Regions from separate parts of the Homo sapiens genome. Here all the other regions are linked to region 2. Evidence: fine-mapped expression QTL. A gene starts in region 2. Each other region holds a variant in brackets. All regions are shown on one strand. Distances are between the middles of the regions.

Region 1 (4,244 bases), 920 kb after region 2:
ATAACAGATTCACTAAAAATAAAAAGCAACACTTTAAAACATACTACCAGAAATAATCACTTAACTGCAAAGTAAGACATAAATAAAGGATGAAAGTAAGAGAGGAGTCTCAAAACAACGAGAATACAAGCAACAAAATGGTAGTAGTAAGTCCTTTCTTATCAATAGTAACAATGAATGTGATGGTCTCCATTTTGCAATTAAAAGACACAGAGTGGTTGAGTGTACAAAGATACAAGATCCAACTACATCCTGCCTTCATGAAACCCACTTCACCTATAAACACATAAAATGAAGGTGAAGGAGTAGAAAAGATATTTTATACAACTAGAAATTAAAAAAAAAAAGGCCCAGGCACAGTAGCACACGCCTGTAATCCCAAGCTATTTGGGTGGCTGATGCAGGAGAATTGCTTGAACCTGGGAGGCAGACGTTGCAGTGAGCTGAGATTCAGCCTGGGTGACAAGAGCGAAACTCCATCTCCAAGAAAAAAAAAAAAAAAAAAAGAAAAAATAAACCAATAAAAGAGCAGTAGCAGCTATATTCATATCAGATAAAATATATTACAAATCAAACACTGTATAAAAAAACAAGTCACTATATAATGATAAAGGGGTCAATTCAGCAAGAACATAAATATTATAAATATCTATGCATCCAATATCAGAGTTCCCAAGTACATAAGCAAAGATTAATAGACCTAAAGAGAGATAGACTACAATACAATAATAGTAGGGACCTTTAATACCTCACTCTCCGTAATTGACAGATCATCAATACATAAAAGCAGACTTCATCCAGACAGAAAAGTAACAAAGAAACAGCGGAGTTAAACTACACATTAGATATAATAGGCTTAACTGACATTTACAAAACATTTCACTCAACTGCTGCAGAATACACATTATTTTCAGCAGCACATGGAACATTCTTCAGAATAGACCATATATTAGGCCACAAACAAGTCTGAACAATGTTTTAAATAAAAATCCTATCAAATATCTTTTCTGACCACAATGGAATAAAATTAGAAATCAATAACAAGAGAAACCTCAGAAAATACACAAACACATGTAAATTAAACAATATGCTCCTGAACAACTGAAGGGTCAATAAAGAAATTAAGAAGGAAATTTGATCATGGTGGATAAAGTTTTTGATGTGCTGCTGAATTTGGTTTGCCAGTATTTTATGAGGATTTTTGCAACAATGTTCATCAAGGATATTGGTCTAAAATTCTCTTTTTTGGTTGTGTCTCTGCCCGCCTTTGGTATCAGGATGATGCTGGCCTCGTAAAATCAGTTAGGGAGGACTCCCTCTTTTTCTATTGATTGGAATAGTTTCAGAAGGAATGGTACCAGTTCCTCCTTGTACCTCTGGTAGAATTCGGCTGTGAATCCATCTCATCCTGCACTCTTTTTGGTTGGTAAGGTATTGATTATTGCCACAATTTCAGATCCTGTTATTGGTCTATTCAGAAATTCAAATTCTTCCTGGTTTAGTCTTGGGAGAGTGTATGTGTGGAGGAATTTATCCATTTCTTCTAGATTTTCTAGTTTATTTGCGTAGAGGTGTTTGTAGTATTCTCTGATGGTAGTTTGTATTTCTGTGGGATTGGTGTTGATATCCCCTTTATCATTTTTTATTACATCTATTTGATTCTTCTCTCTTTTTTTCTTTATTAGTCTTGCTAGCGGTCTATCAATTTTGTTGATCCTTTCAAAAAACCAGCTCC[T/C]GGATTCATTAATTTTTTGAAGGGTTTTTTGTGTCTGTATTTCCTTCAGTTCTGCTCTGATTTTAGTTATTTCTTGCCTTCTGCTAGCTTTTGAATGTGTTTCATCCCTGGGATGCAAGGCTGGTTCAATATATGCAAATCAATAAATGTAATCCAGCATATAAACAGAACCAAAGACAAAAAAACACATGATTATCTCAATAGATGAAGAAAAGGCCTTTGAAAAAATTCAACAACACTTCATGCTAAAAACTCTCAATAAATTAGGTATTGATGGGACGTATCTCAAAATAATAAGAGCTATCTATGACAAACCCACAGACAATATCATACTGAATGAGCAAAAACTGGAAGCATTCCCTTTGAAAACTGGCACAACACAGGGATGCTCTCTCTCACCACTCCTATTCAACATAGTGTTGGAAGTTCTGGCCAGGGCAACCAGGCAGGAGAAGGAAATAAAGGGTATTCAATTAGGAAAAGAGGAAGTCAAATTGTCCCTGTTTGCAGACAACATGATTGTATATCTAGAAAACCCCATTGTCTCAGCCCAAAATCTCCTTAAGGTGATAAGCAACTTCAGCAAAGTCTCAGGATACAAAACCAATGTGCAAAAATCACAAGCATTCTTATATACCAACAACAGACAAACAGAGAGCCAAATCATGAGTGAACTCCCATTCACAATTGCTTCAAAGAGAATAAAATACCCAGGAATCCAACTTACAAGGGATGTGAAAGACCTCTTCAAGGAGAACTACAAACCACTGCTCAATGAAATAAAAGAGGATACAAACAAATGGAAGAACATTCCATGCTCATGGGTAGGAAGAATCAATATCGTGAAAATGGCCATACTGCCCAAGGTAATTTACAGATTCAATGCCATCCCCATCAAGCTACCAATGACTTTCTTCACAGAATTGGAAAAAAACTACTTTAAAGTTCATATGGAACCAAAAAAGAGCCCGCATCACCAAGTCAATCCTAAGCCAAAAGAACAAAGCTGGAGGCATCACACTACCTGACTTCAAACTATACTACAAGGCTACAGTAACCAAAACAGCATGGTACTGTTACCAAAACAGAGATATAGATCAGAGAATCTGATCAGAACAGATCAGAGGAACAGAACAGAGCCCTCAGAAATAATGCCACATATCTACAACTATCTGATCTTTGACAAACCTGAGAAAAACAAGCGATGGGGAAAGGATTCCCTATTTAATAAATGGTGCCGGGAAAACTGGCTAGCCAGATGTAGTAAGCTGAAACTGGATCCCTTCCTTACACCTTATACAAAAATCAATTCAAGATGGATTAAAGACTTAAATGTTAGACCTAAAACCATAAAATCCCTAGAAGAAAACCTAGGCAATACCATTCAGGACATAGGCTTGGGCAAGGACTTCATGTCTAAAACACCAAAAGCAATGGCAACAAAAGCCAAAATTGACAAATGGGATCTAATTAAACTAAAGAGCTTCTGCACAGCAAAAGAAACTACCATCGGAGTGAACAGGCAACCTATAAAATGGGAGAAAATTTTCACAACCTACTCATCTGACAAAGGGCTAATATCTAGAATCTACAATGAACTCAAACAAATTTACAAGAAAAAAACAAACAACCCCATCAAAAAGTGGGCGAAGGACATGAACAGACACTTCTCAAAAGAAGACATTTATGCAGCCAAAAAACACATGAAAAAATTCTTACCATCACTGGCCATCAGAGAAATGCAAATCAAAACCAAATTGAGATACCATCTCATACCAGTTAGAATGGCAATCATTAAAAAGTCAGGAAACAACAGGTGCTGGAGAGGATGTGGAGAAATAGGAACACTTTTACACTGTTGGTGGGACTGTAAACTAGTTCAACCATTGTGGAAGTCAGTGTGGTGATTCCTCAGGGATCTAGAACTAGAAATACCATTTGACCCAGCCATCCCATTACTGGGTATATACCCAAAGGACTATGAATCATGCTGCTATAAAGACACATGCACATGTATTTTTATTGTGGCATTATTCACAATAGCAAAGACTTGGAACCAAGCCAAATGTCCAACAATGATAGACTGGATTAAGAAAATGTGGCACATATACACCATGGAATACTATGCAGCCATATAAAATGATGAGTTCATGTCCTTTGTAGGGACATGGATGAAATTGGAAATCATCATTCCCAGTAAACTATCTCAAGAACAAAAAAACAAACACTGCATATTCTCACTCATGTGGGAATTGAACAATGAGAACACATGGACACAGGAAGGGGAACATCACACTCTGAGGACTGTTGTGGGGTGGGGGGAGGGAGGAGGGATAGCATTCGAGATATACCTAATGCTAGATGACGAGTTAGTGGGTGCAGCGCACCAGCATGGCACATGTATACATATGTAACTAACCTGCACATTGTGCACATGTACCCTAGAACTTAAAGTATAGTAATAATAAAAAAAAGAAGGAAACTTGAAAATTTCTTCAAACAAATGAGA
Region 2 (4,209 bases):
TTTGGCCTCCAGAACTACGAGAAAATAAATGTCTGTTGTTTTAAACCACCAAGTTTGTGGTAATTTGCTATAGCAACAACAGGAAACTAACGCAGTGCTTCTTCAAAATTACCACTATTTGACACACTTCGTCCACTAATTCCTAATTCTCAATAGGTCTCAGGCCCCATTTGCCACATATTAGACATAATGCTCTTGTTACATGCTTTGGTCATGTTTTCTTAGAACACACGGAATAGAGAGAACTTCAGCTTTATGTGGATGGAATGGGGATAAATAGGGGTCTTTGCCTGAAAAGGACTATGCAAAATTTTTAGCCTATAAACCCCAAAATGTGTGTGAATGATTGCCGCAGATCTGGCAGCTCCTCTGACTGGCCTGTATCTTGAGGAGTCATAGAAACCACTCCCCAGACTTCTTTGCCAGCACACTGTCATGATCCTGAAGGAAAAAGGGTATCTGGTTTCAGGCAGACACCTGGCCAACTGGTTGGCATGGCTACTTGGGACAGAGTAACTGTCAGTCAAGAACCATAGGCAGGCCGGGCACGGTGGCTCATGCCTGTAATCCTAGCACTTTGGGAGGCCTGGGCTGGTGGATCACTTGAGGTCAGGAGTTCCAGACCAGCCTGGCCAACATGGTGAAACCCTGTCTCTACTAACAATACAAAAATTAGCCAAGCATAGTGGCAGGCGCCTGTAATCCCAGCTACTTGGAAGGCTGAGGCAAGAGAATCACTTGAACCCTGGAGGTAGAGGTTGCAGTGAGCCGAGAATTGTGCCACTGCACTCCAGCCTGGGCGACTGGGCCAGACGCCATGTCAAAAAAAAAAAGAAAAAGAAAAAAAGAAAAATAAAATAACTATAGGCAGACTATATCTTAGGAAAAGTTGGCTGGAGAAAGAAGCACATATAGAGGATGAATTGGGATTTGTTGCTGTGAAGCGTAAAAGTGCCACTCACAGCAATGCTGTTAAGATCGTTAGCAACAGTTCTCTCTCTCTCTCTCTCAAGTGTTACATTGGAAAATAACTTCTGCAAGAAGGATTGGGACATAGTCCTAAACATATTTCAGTCAACTCGTAAAATCGGAGGAACTTCATAATACCGCTTTTCTCCCAGAACTCCAAAATACCAAGGAATTTTGCAGAAAAACTAAGTATACCTTGGTGGATGTTGAAACCAACATAGCAGTGGAATGTTGGCAGAGTAAAATTCTACAATTTTCTGCTATGACAGAGAACCTAGAGACCAGTCTACAACTCTCACTGTACAGATGGGAAAACTGAGACTAGTCTAAGTCCACATAGTTAGTGGCAAAATTTAGAGTAAAACTCAGGTCTCTAGGCTGGTATTTATTTATTTATTTATGTATGTATTTATTTAATTTACTTTTGAGACAGAGTCTCGATCTGTCACCCAGGGTGGAGTGCACTGGTGCGATCTTGGCTTGTTGCAGCCTCCGCCTCCCGGATTCAAGCGATTCTTGTGCCTCAGCCTCCTGAGTAACTGGGATTACAGGCATGTGCAACCATGCTTAGCTAATTTTTGTATTTTTACTAGAGACCGGGTTTCACCATTTTGGCCAGGCTGGTCTGGAACTCCTGACCTCAAGTGATCCGCCCGCCTGGGCCTCCCAATGTGCTGGGATTACAGGCGTGAGCCACCACGCCTGGCCAGGCTGGTACTAATTTAAAAGGCAGGGCCCCTGGTTACCTGCCACAAAAGCAGATTTTTTCAACCCAACTGTAACTGTTTCGATATGAGATATTTCCTCTGTAGCCCTGCTTCAGTGTCCAGTGTTTTACTAGGTTAGGTCCTGATTCACGGCAATAAAAATATACTTAAAATCGCATTTTCAGTTCACTGGATGACTACAATCAAGCTGCCACCCGCCGAGGGGAGCAAAATAAAATTCCTCTTGCAGTGAAGACATACCGCTTCCGGTCTGGTACAGAAGCCGGTTAGCAACCAGGAAATTGGCGGAACCTAGAGGCTGAACTCTTGCCCCTGGAGGGTTTGCTTTGTGAAAAGAACACTTCCGGCCGGTGAGTTTTTAACCCCGCATGTCATTAGGTCGGCGCCCAATTCTGACGTTCCGATTGGCCATGCTGACGCTGGAAGGCGGGCTTGCGTATGGGGTCACGCTCTCCTATTGGCTGCTGGTGCGGTGGCGGTTCGGAGTGAGGGTAGCACGCTGAGCTGAAGGCTGTGCGGAGCGGCGCGGCACAGAGCCTGTTGTTGAGCTCAGTATGTCGTGGGAATCCGGGGCCGGGCCAGGTCTAGGTTCCCAGGGGATGGATCTCGTGTGGAGTGCGTGGTACGGAAAGTGCGTTAAAGGGAAAGGGTCGTTGCCACTCTCGGCCCACGGCATCGTGGTCGCCTGGCTCAGCAGGGCCGAGTGGGACCAGGTGACGGTTTATCTGTTCTGTGACGACCATAAGTTGCAGCGGTACGCGCTTAACCGCATCACGGTGTGGAGGAGCAGGTAAGGTGGCGGGTTCGGCCCTTTTGCCTGCGTGCTGGTGGCGCTGCACCTCTTCCTTTGTCGAGTTTCTATAAGGCCCTGTTCTCCAGTCTTCCCCTAAGTCGCCTAAAGTTGTCCCTCTCCCAAATGCCTGGGGGAACGCGGCAGCCATCTCTTGCGCTAATCCCGTTAGCGGAATGGAAAGTAAGGGGTTGTGCCTCAACAATTCTCTTGTTATATCTGTGAGGTTTACCCATTACCTCCAAAAAGTGACTTTCTCCCAACTTGGAGAGGATGCCGGAGGGACTAGTGAGGCCTGAGCCAGGGCTTAAGGAGTAGATTAGTACCCTAGGGTAGATTTCCGATTCCAATGGGGAGGAAGTCTTGCCTGCAAGACAGTGTTTGAGTGGGGCGCCTCAGTCCAGTTGGTAAGATTGAGTTGGGAGCCGACTTACAAGGGATAAGGGGCTCCTCTAGCTCAATGAGTTGATTTGGGGGTGAAAGAAAGGGGTGTGTCCACACAACTGTTGATGGACAGTCTACCAGTTAGGTGTCCTGTATACGGCCTAGTCAGCTCCTCATGCCCTGTATACTGTTGGATCCCACAGACATTACCGTGTCTCCTCCCACCTTCTTGTTTTGTGTCTGTTCATGCTCTCTTGAACCAGAATATGATGGGTGTAGCCTGCAACAACCTAGGTTCTGAGGTGGAGGGTGGACCAGTGTAAGGGCTCTTTATGATGGTGCTGGACTGTGACCCTTTAGGTCAGGCAACGAACTCCCTCTGGCAGTGGCTTCTACTGCTGACCTGATACGCTGTAAGCTCTTGGATGTAACTGGTGGCTTGGGCACTGATGAACTTAGACTGCTCTATGGCATGGCATTGGTCAGGTAAGACCTGCATGGGGTAGGGGTGGAGGTTGGCTTTGGGGACTGGAGGCAGGGGAGGCATGTGATAAGCAAAACTTGGCTTCAGGTGTTACCTGAAGCAAAACCCTGCGTGTACCTCACTGTGGATCAGCCTGTGATTATTGCTTGACTTATCAGCTTTTGGTACCCTCGTCAACGCATTCCTCTTTTTCTTCCTTTTTCCTGAAAGCCTTCTCTTCCATTTTTCTTTCTATCTTGGAATGTGGAGGAAGGGATTCAGACCAGGTGATCTCTGTGGGTCTCTTGGTGGTCTGATATTTTTTCTTACCTTTGAATTCCTCACCCAGAGGAACTTGTCTGAATGGCTCAGGGTCCTCGCCTGTGATTTAATGTGGACTTTCCAACCCTGTCCCTGTCTATTCCTAGCACTACCCTTTTCCCCTTCTCTCCCTCATGAACACTGAAAGATTGCTGAGTTATGGAAGTGGAGACATGGGCTGGGAATTCCTGACTTACAAAGTGACTCATAATGGTTCTAGCTGTATACACGTCGGAAAAAAAGGTTGCTACTGAGTTTTCATATCTGTCAAAGTCTTTGCTTATCTATTTCCCCTTGTCTGCCTTGAGATCCTCCCTTTCTCTTCTTATTTTCTCCATTGGTTAGCTGTGCTCCCCATTATCTGATGTAGTCCTTTGCAGCATTTATAACATATTATGTTCTAGCCTAATATGTTACATTGTATCATTATTATTTATCCTAGACCGAACTGTTCAAGGCTAGAGCAGTGTCTTATTCATCTGTATGGCTTCATTATAGGGCAGACTCTCATTAAATGTTGGAATGGATGGAACTGTCCCTGCTCTGGCTGACAC
Region 3 (4,244 bases), 29 kb before region 2:
AAAAACGCACAACTACTGGAAACTGAACAACCTGCTGCTGAATTACTACTGGGTAAATAATGAAATTAAGGCAGAAATAAATAAATTCTTTGAAACCAATGAGACCAAAGATACAACGTACCAGAATCTCTGGAACACAGCTCAAGTAGTGTTTAGAGGGAAATTTATAGCACTAAATGCCTACAAGAGAAAGCAGGAAAGATCTAAAGTTGACACCCTAACATCACAATTAAAAGAACTAGAGAATCAAGAGCAAACAAATTCAAAAGTTAGCAGAAGACAAGAAATAACTAAGATCAGAGCAGAACTGAAGGATATAGATACACAAAAAAAACCCTTCAAAATATCAATGAATCCAGGAGCTGGTTTTGTGAAAAGATCAACAAAATAGATAGACTGCTAGCCAGAATAATGAAGAAGAAGAGAGAGAAGGAGCTGTTATCATTCCTTCTGAAACTATTCCAAACAATAGCAAAAGAGGGACTCCTCCCTAACTCATTTGATGATGCCAGCATCATGCTTATACCAAAACCTGGCAGAGACACAACAAAAAAAAGAAAATTTCAGGCCAATATCCCTGATGAATATCGATGCAAAAATCTTCAATAAAATACTGGCAAACCGAATCCAGCAGCACATCAAAAAGCTTATCCACCATGACCAAGTCGGCTTCATCCCTAGGATGGAAGGCTGGTTCAACATCCACAAATCAATAACTGTAATCCACCACATAAACAGTACCAATGACAAAAACCACATGATTATCTCAAAAGATGCAGTAAAGGCCTTTGACAAAATTCAACACCTTTTCATGCTACAAACTCTCAATAAACTAGGTGTTGATGGAATGTATCTCAAAATAATAAGAGCTATTTATGACAAACCCACAGCCATCATCATACTGAATGGGCAAAAACTGGAAGCATTCCCTTTGAAAACTGGCACAAGACAGGGATGCTCTCTCTCACCACTCCTCTTCAACCTAATATTGGAAGTTCTGGCCAGGGCAATCAGGCAAGATAAAGAAATAAAGGGTACTCAAACAGGAAGAGAGGAAGTCAAATTGTCTCTGTTTTGTAGATGACATGATTGTATATTTAGAAAACCCCATCATCTCAGCCCAAAATATTTTTAAGCTGATAAGCAAATTCAGCAAAGTCTCAGGATACAAAATTAATGTGCAAAAATCACAAACATACCTATACATCAGTAATAGACAGAGAGCCAAATCATGAATGAACTCCCATTCACAACATTCACAATTGCTACTAAGAGAATAAAATACTTAGGAATACAACTTACAAGGGATGTGAAGGACCTCTTCAAGGAGAACTACAAACCACTGCTCAACAAATTAAAGAAGGACACAAACAAATGGAAAAACATTCCATGTTCATGGATAGGAGGAATCAATATCGTGAAAATGGCCATAATGACCAAAGTAATTTATAGATTCAATGCTATCCCCATCAAGCTACAATTGACTTTCTTCACACAATTAGAAAAATACTACTTTAAATTTCATATGGAACCAAAAAAGAGCCCACATAGCAGACAATCCTAAGCAAGAAGAACAAAGCTGGAGGCATCACGCTACCTGACTTCAAACTATACTACGAGTCTACAGTAACCAAAACCACATGGTACTGGTACCAAAACAGATATATAGACCAATGGAACAGAATAGAGGCCTCAGAAATAACACCACACATCTACAACCATCTGACCTTTGGTAAACCTGACAAAAACAAGCAATAGGAAAAGGATTCCCTATTTAATAAATGGTGTTGGGAAAACTGGTAAGCCATATACGGAAAAATGAAACTGGACCCCTTCTTTACACCTTATACAAAAATTAACTCAAGATGGATTAAAGACTTAAATGTAAGACCTAAAACCATAAAAACCCTAGAAGAAATCCAAGGCAATACCATTCAGGACACAGGCATGGACAAAAACTTCATGACTAAAACATCAAAAGCAATGGCAACAAAAGCCAAAATTGACAAATGGGATGTAATTAAACTAAAGAGCTTCTGCACAGCAAAAGAAACTATCATCAGAGTGAACAGGCAACCTACAGAATGGGAGAAAATTTTTGCAATCTATCCATCTGACAAAGGCTAATATCCAGAATCTACAAAGAACTTAAACAAATTTACAAGAAAAAAAACAAACAACCCCAACAAAAAGTGGGCGAAGGATATGAACAGACATTTCTCAAAAGAAGACATTTATTTTTATTTTATTTTATTTTATTTATTTATTTTTTGAGATGGAGTGTCACTCTGTCACCCAGGCTGGAATGCAGTGGTGCAATCTTGGCTCACTGCAACCTCCACCCACCCAGGGTTCAAGTGATTCTCCTACCTCAGCCTCCCAAGTAGTGGGGATTAGAGGTGCCTGCCACCATGCCTGGCTAATTTTTGTATTTTTAGTAGAGACGCGGTTTCAGCATCTTGGCCAGGCT[G/T]GTCTTGAACTCCTGACCTCGTGATCCACCCACCTCAGGCTCCCAAAGTGCTGGGATTACAGGCGTGAGCCACCACACCCAGCAAAAGAAGACATTTATACAGCCAACAAACATGAAAAAAAAGGGTCATCATCACTGGTCATTAGAGAAATGTAAATCAAAATCACAATGAGATATCATCTTATGCCAGTTAGAAAGGGGATCATTAAAATGTCAGGAAACAACAGATGCTGGAGAGGATGTGGAGAAATAGGAATGCTTTTACACTGCTGGTGGGAGTGCAAGTTAGTTCAAACATTGTGGAAGACAGTGTGGCGATTCCTCAAAGATCTAGAAACAGAAATACCATTTGACCCAGCAATCCCATTACTGAGTATATACCAAGAGGTTTATGAATCATTCTACTATAAAGACACATGCACATGTATGTTTATTGTGGCACTGTTCACAATAGCAAAGACTTGGAACCAACCCAAATGTCCATCAATGATAGACTAGATAAAGAAAATGTGGCACACATACACCATGGAATACTATGCAGCCATAAAAAAGGATGAGTTCAAGTCCTTTGCAGGGACATGGATGAAGCTGGAAACCATCATTCTTACCAAACTAACACAAGAACATAAAACCAAACACCTCACGTTCTCACTCATAAGTGGGAGTTGAACAATGAGAACACATGGACACAGGGTGGGGAACATCACACACTGGGGCCTGTCAGGGGGTAGGGGGCTAGAGGAGGGATAGCACTAGGAGAGATACCTAATGTAGATGACAGGTTGATGGGTGCAGCAAACCACCATGGCACATGTATACCTATGTAACAAACCTGCAAGTTCTGCACATATACTCCAGAACTTAAAGTATAAGAAGAAGAAGAAAATTAAAAAAGAAGAAAGAGTATGAACATGGCCAGCCATGGTGACACACGCCTGTAATTCCAGCACTTTGGGAGGCCGAGGCGAGCGGATCACCTGAGGTCAGGAGTTCAAGACCAGCCTGGCCAACATGGTGAAACCCCATCTCTATTAAAAATAAAAAAAAATTAGCCAGACATGGTGGTGCACACCTGTAATCCTAGCTACTGGGAGGCTGAGGCAGGAGAATCACTTGAAGCTGGGAGGCGGAGGTCGCAGTGAATTGAGATCACGTCACTGCACTCCAGCCTGGGCGACAAAGAAAGACTCCATCTCAAAAAAACAAAACAAAACAAAACAAAACAAATGTGAACATGAACAGGTTTTGTTGGATAAAATGCCCACTACTCATAGGAAGGGTTGTTGTGAACAGTATCCTTTTGATCCTTTCCTGGCCAGGCCCTGGTCCTTGTTTTCGCCTAGGTCAAGACTCAAATCCCAGCCTTCAAGCCTACAACTTGAACCAGCCTCTGACAGATGGATAAGATGCTTCAGCTCAGAGTGTATGTGTAGGGGAAAGGCGTGTACAGGCAAGGGAGGAATATCCTCCTGAAGACTAGGAAGATGGATATCAATCTTACTATTTTCTCTATTTATTTATTTATTTATTTATTTATTTATTTATTTAGAGATGGACTTTCGCTTTTGTTGCCCAGGCTGGAGTGCAATGGCACGATCTCAGCTCACCGAAACTGCCGCCTTCCGGATTCAAGTGATTCTCCTGCCTCAGCCTCCCAAGTAGCTGGGATTACAGGAATGCACCACCATGCCTGGATAATTTTGTATTTTTAGTAGAGACGAGGTTTCTCCATGTTGGTCAGGCTGGTCTCGAACTCCCGACCTCAGGTGATCCG

Alleles and levels. Alleles are on the strand shown, and positions count from the first base shown. SD is a standard deviation of normalised expression in the study named. Not every link is listed here.
For the expression in tibial nerve of the gene that starts at base 2,180 in region 2, allele T in region 1 goes with a lower level than allele C (small effect, 0.26 SD a copy in GTEx).

Evidence for each region. PIP is the estimated chance that this variant, and not a neighbour inherited with it, causes the effect. A credible set is the group of variants that fine-mapping cannot tell apart.
Region 1: its variant is the best candidate, but not a certain one, in a credible set for the expression of LAS1L in tibial nerve (GTEx, PIP 0.68).
Region 3: its variant is the best candidate, but not a certain one, in a credible set for the expression of LAS1L in whole blood (TOPMed, PIP 0.87).

Annotation. Positions count from the first base shown.
Region 1 is chrX:64,616,544-64,620,787 of GRCh38, reverse strand. No RefSeq gene overlaps it. Among named protein-coding and RNA genes, the nearest start is that of MTMR8, 220 kb to the right of the region's middle. The variant T/C (reference allele first, on the strand shown) is at 1,736.
Region 2 is chrX:65,532,758-65,536,966 of GRCh38, reverse strand. It overlaps LAS1L (LAS1 like ribosome biogenesis factor), which reads left to right and starts at 2,180. Exons shown (of 14, transcript NM_031206.7): 1 at 2,180-2,487; 2 at 3,232-3,357. The coding sequence starts at 2,252. RefSeq lists an enhancer at 1,906-2,085.
Region 3 is chrX:65,561,838-65,566,081 of GRCh38, reverse strand. No RefSeq gene overlaps it. Among named protein-coding and RNA genes, the nearest start is that of LAS1L, 29 kb to the right of the region's middle. The variant G/T (reference allele first, on the strand shown) is at 2,471.